Linked DNA regions of Homo sapiens: region 2 is linked to region 1. Evidence: fine-mapped expression QTL. A gene starts in region 1. The other region holds a variant in brackets. All regions are shown on one strand. Distances are between the middles of the regions.

The links. PIP is the estimated chance that this variant, and not a neighbour inherited with it, causes the effect. A credible set is the group of variants that fine-mapping cannot tell apart.
Region 2: its variant is the best candidate, but not a certain one, in a credible set for the expression of LDHB in whole blood (TOPMed, PIP 0.52).

Annotation. Positions count from the first base shown.
Region 1 is chr12:21,656,236-21,659,150 of GRCh38, forward strand. LDHB (lactate dehydrogenase B) reads right to left here and starts at 1,607. Exons shown (of 8, transcript NM_002300.8): 1 at 1,516-1,607. RefSeq lists enhancers at 1,159-1,248, 1,279-1,528, 1,506-2,034, 1,909-2,088.
Region 2 is chr12:21,610,529-21,613,443 of GRCh38, forward strand. No RefSeq gene overlaps it. Among named protein-coding and RNA genes, the nearest start is that of GYS2, 7.1 kb to the left of the region's middle. The variant A/G (reference allele first, on the strand shown) is at 1,659.

The sequences.
Region 1 (2,915 bases):
AAAATATTTCCTCCCATCTGTAAGGATAAATTAAAAGGAGATTCTTTCGCCTTTACAGATCACATTTACAGTTTCCTAGTGGACGTTAAAGAGAGAAGATGCAATGTTGTGCAAGTGCCTCCACAAATAGATGACCTTAAAATGAAATAAATTCAGACATGGCCTGCATTTTAAACAGGCTCAGAAGAAAGAATGCTGCATCTCTTTTTGAAGGACGACACACATGAATAGTTGTTCTGCACTTAAGTTTATTGTTGTTAGATGGTCTGTTTACGACCGTTTTGGTATACAGGGGGCCCAGGAAGCAGTGGAAAATGAAAATGAAGAAACAGTGGCTATATAAATACAGATTCGTTGTTCTGATAGACCTTTTAATTTAGAAAACTTCAGGAAGTACAATTTAAAGGCTCGAACCAGATTTTCTTTCAGATATTTCTGGAGAAAGTGCTTTTCTTCAATTTTTCCTTAAAAAGAGTTTTAAGAAATGAGAAGAAAATGGTCTGCATGATATACAGGCCTGTGCCAACATCAGAGTGCAGGCTGTAAGGAACAAGAACGACAAACGGTAAAAATCTCTGAGTCTTGGTCCCTTATGTCTCCTCACTGCTGTGGATATAAATCATTAGAAATAAAGGAGCGCCTTAATTTCAGGAACAAAGATCTTCTTTGCAGAATCTTTCTCACCGTAATCTTTTAAAAATTCAGGTTTTGCTTTTGAATTCCTCCCCTCCCCCCATTCCCCAGGCCCTTACTGCAGCTTGTACTGCTCGCGGTGCGCACAAACCATCTTTTCCTCAGGGCACCGGCAGCAAAGAACAGCAGATCACGAGGGCATGCAGAAGCTAGAGATCTCCCCGAGTAAGGTCTGTGGGGACAAGTCTAGGACTTCCTTACTCGGAGCACCCAAGGCTGGTAAAGTAAACGAAGCCCCTAAGCATCCAGAAAAGAGGCCCTGCAGGAAAGAACTGGCGCATGGCTCCTGGAAAGACCGTCAGAGCCGGGTAAAAATAAGTGCAGCGCCAAACGTGCTGGTCATCTAGGTGCCTTTCTCCTCATCCCAGCGAGTGCAAGGGCATTTCTCTATTACCGTGGCAATATATTCAAATATTCGAGGTAAAGATCGTCCAGCCTTCATAGGCCACCTGGTTCCGTCCCCCTCCCCCAGCTACTCGGGCACGTGTCCCGACTCCCGCCAGCAGGCCGTGGGGGTGATGTGGCCGCCATGAACCCACCAAGGACAAGTAGGGCCTGGTTTTAGCTGCAAATGCAACAAGTCTCTCCGCTGAGCCGCAGCTGCTACCCTCTGCCTTCTGCTCCTCCGCCAGGGCACGGCCCCCCCTGCGCCCCAAACTGAGCGGCAAAGTCAGGGCCCGCGGCCGGATGCTCAGAGCTAAAGGCCGCGGAGGACAGATGTGCTTCTTCCTCCTTCCCGCGTCTCCCCATACAAGTACTACCCCGCACGTCCCATCAGGCTTGCCTGTGGGCCAGGATTCAGGGTCCTGAGCCGAAACCTACCAGGAGAGAGAAGGCTCTGGAGACCTCTGTAACAGTCGTGCGGAGAAGACAAAGTCAGCTGCGTGCGTCTCCTCCGGCGCCGGCTCTGCAAGGAGGGAGGAGGGGGCGGGGCCCCACAACCACCGCAGCCTCTTAGGTTTCTCCATTGTGATTGGAAATCCGAGTACCGCCTACCCCTCCCCTCGGCTCGCTCAATCCCCTTCAAGGACAAGGGCTCAAGTATGCACACTCCCTCCCCCACCCTCCAGATGAGGAGGTCTCCTTCCAGAGGCTTCCGCTCTCAGCTGGTCTCACATCTCGCAGGCTCTTCAATGCGGAGGCCAAGTTATTTATAAAACTTGCCCATCCCCGACTCTTCTGGACTTTAACGCTCTTGTTCTATTAGATTTAGTACAAATAGAAATAAATTTCTTTCCTTCTTTTTTTTATTTTGAGACGGAGTCTCACTCTGTCGCCCAGGCTGGAGTGCAGTGGCGCGATCTCGGCTCACTGCAAGCTCCGCCTCCCGGGCTCACGACATTCTCCTGCCTCAGCCTCCCGAGTAGCTGGGACTACAGGCGCCCGCCACCTCGCCCGGCTAATTTTTTGTATTTTTAGTAGAGAGGGGGGTTTCACCGTGTTAGCCAGGATGGTCTCGATCTCCTGACCTCGTGATCCGCCCGCCTCGGCCTCCCAAAGTGCTGGGATTACAGGCCTGAGCCACCGCGCCCGGCCAGAAATAAATTTCTATGTTGCATTTCAGTTAAACTTTAAAGGACTTAAAAAAATACATCTGAATTTAGATCATCTCCGTTTTAAAGTTCATTTGATGAAAATGACTATTTTTTTCAACCTGTTTCAACAAACACGCAATGATTGCTTACTCGTTGCCTGACAAGACCAATGAGGCTTTGTCCCTGCCATCTGAAGTTCCCCTACAATTCCACCTGGTCTCAAGGTCAGGCTTTGCCCTCTAGGGGAAATGTGGGACCACTAAGTGAGATGCACTTTCTTTTTTAGTCCCTAATCGACTCCAAAGCTGGATGTTGTCATTCATTCTGTCTTCAACACTCAGCCAGTGCTTGGTACCTAAATATAGCATTGATGAATAAATGAATGAATGATAAATTGGAGGAATTCTGAAGAGTCTGGCTTCAGTTCTGTTTTCTTATAATTAAAATGCTTTCAAATATAGCCATCTCACAAACTTCCTGTATGTGAAGTGTTTTTTTTTGTAAATGCATATTTCTTGTATATGACCACTAATTCTATAATTATTGCTTCAGTTTATTCTCAGTGCCAAGCATTGGTAAAAAACATAAATATAAGATTATGCCCTTTGAGGTGTTCCTAGTCCATTGGAGACAGACAAGTAGGCAACCTATTTCAATTACAATAAGTGGCAATAGAAATTTGGTTAA
Region 2 (2,915 bases), 46 kb before region 1:
CATGGGCCTACATTAACTGTCAGGTTTCTAGAAACACTTAAGCTCCTGAGTTAATTTTTTTTTCCACGTGCATTTGGAGTTGCTGATCAGGAAGCAGCCAAAGGCAAAGCAAGAAATTATCCTTAAATTAAACTTACAATCTAAGCTGACAATGCCCATCCATCACACTGAAGATCGTGAGAGAGATTTTTGACCTTGACTGTTGAGATTACCTTAGTATAGACTGAATTTTACCCGTATACTCAGAACTTGTTTTTGGAATAGAGCTTTTGGTTTGTGATCCCTCTTCTCTAATTTTATTTTAAACTCTTTTGCTACACAAGATGAAGGGATTAGGAAAGGTAGCTATCGCTTCTCGGCCTTTTGGCTAAAATCAAATGTAGGAAAGGTAGCTATAGCCCCTATGGATAAAGAAGTAAACAAATAAGATTTTGGGTAAGAGAGAAAGCAGAGGGATAATATCTCTCTGGGAAGAGATCAAGTCATCCAGTGACGTTTAATCAAATGTGTTGCTTTCGTCCTTATCTCGTTCTGTGACATCCATGTACGGTCCTCTATTCTCCCAAGGAATTTTTAATAAAATCAATATAAGAAATATTTTTAAATAAAAGTTTACAAAAACAGAGCCTGGAGAGAAAATGTGCAATGATAAGAGCTTACGTGCCAAGAGTGGAAGCCAAGGCTCGATGACACTTTGAGTTTACCAGGAAAGAGGGAGCAGAGTAAAATTGTTAAAAACTAGGGCTTTGGGCCGGGCGCGGTGGCTCACGCCTGTAATCCCAGCACTTTGGGAGGCCGAGGCGGGTGGATCATGAGGTCAGGAGATCGAGACCATCCTGGCTAAGAAGGTGAAACCCCGTCTCTACTAAAAATACAAAAAAATTAGCCGGGCGCGGTGGCGGGCGCCTGTAGTCTCAGCTACTCGGGAGGCTGAGGCAGGAGAATGGCGTGAACCCGGGAAGCGGAGCTTGCAGTGAGCCGAGATTGCGCCACTGCAGTCCGCAGTCCGGCCTGGGCGACAGAGCGAGACTCCGTCTCAAAAAAAAAAAAAAAAAAAACTAGGGCTTTGGAGTCAAGCCAGTCTCATTTAGAAGTGGACTACTTAGTAGACTGTGAAATGGGGGTGATGATATTCACTTCACGAGGTTGTTGTGGGGATTAAATGAGCATGTATGAATGCTCTTTGCACAGTGTCTGCCAAAGCCTGCATCGGCTCAGAGATCAGGGATTCCAAGCCAGATGCATGGAGTCAACCTGATGGCCAGCCAGCTCAAGCTGCTCATCTGCCTCCTGCAGGAGACCATCAGTTGGCTGCCATCTAGGCTCTCTTTTCTCCACGCTCTGCTCAGGTGAGAGATGCTGATATGAAGGCTAGGAATACTGAACAACAGGCTTACTTTTCTGACATTCTCCACCAAATTTAAGATATGAAATATTGTCAAATATTATTTACATGGTGATTTTGTATGAAGCAGAAGCATATATGCTATGCAGAGGCTTATAAAATATACAGTGGTATATACATATGAGTAAATGCCAAGTATTACAAAGATAAACAAGTCAAGTAATATAAGTGGCAATGTTAAACTTTTTTTTCCAAAATGGTGTCATGAAAATAGTTGACAAAGCCGGGCGCAGTGGCTCACGCTTGTAATCCC[A/G]ACACTTTGGGAGGCCAAGGCAGGTGGACCACTTGAGGCCAGGAGTTCGAGACCACCCTGACCAAAATGGAGAAACCCCATCTCTACTAAAAATACAAAATTAGCCAAGTATGGTGGTGCATGCCTGTAATCCCAGCTACTCGAGAGACTGAGGCGGGAGAATGGCTTGAACTCAGGAGGCGGAGGTTGCAGTGAGCCAAGATCACGCCATTGCACTCTAGCCTGGGCAACAAGAGTGAAACCCTGTCTCAAAAAAGAAAGAGAGAGAGAGAGAGAAAGAAAGAGAGAGAAAGAAAGAAAGAAAAAGAGAAAGAAAGAAAGAAAGAGAAAGAAAGAGTCGATGAAAATTTTTTTTAATATAAAGAGGAAAATTCGAATGTTAGTACAGGTGTGGCACTAAATTAGTTTCTGTCAGGTGGAATGCCTTTTGGTAGTTACCTTTTTTACCTTCTGTGTTAATGCTCAATGTAGTTAGGCAAACCTGAGAATCAGTCCTACCCCACCTTGATGAAACCCACAACACATGAGATCCCAAGTAACTCCTTTACCATCAAAACAAGTCAAATATCTCCTTGAGAACACATTTTTTTTTAAATTTAGCTGTTTCTGTCAACCTAATCTCTATTTGCATATGGAGAAGGCATAAAAGCACATTCTCACTAAACGCAAATTCTGGATGTGGTAGTGTCAGACCAAGAGGAGAAGTCCTAACAGTCATAACATTACCCAGCCCTATTATTATCACGATTTTGAGGGAAAATTAGATATTAAGATTTAATGCTAAGTTATACTCACATTTAATGTTTTTATAAGATTATATCTTCCACAAGATCAGTACTGGGTTCTCAGTCACTATACTTTATGTGATTGGCTGTTCCATATGCACTTTGACTAGAAAACAAATGGTTCCTGTAACACTTAAATAGTTTCCAAGGAATATTGTGGAATCACTTTCCTGATAAGAGATAATAAAACCCTTTGATGTTGATTTAGGGTGGAAAGTTGATAAAAAGTAGAGGGATATTAGAAACTGTCAAGAGATTTTTTTTCTAAGTTTATATGCTAGCCCACAGATGCCAAATATGTTCTATTTGTTTTAAGAAGTCTTTCTAACACAGTATGAGGAAAACAGGTGGGGGTGTAAATACATGCTTCAACATAGGATATCTTAAGAAATAAGAGCATTGGTTTAATTTGGGGAGTTGCCTGTTTTTAGATGTGTGATCTCCAGCAAGTTTCTTTAAATGAAATCAGCTT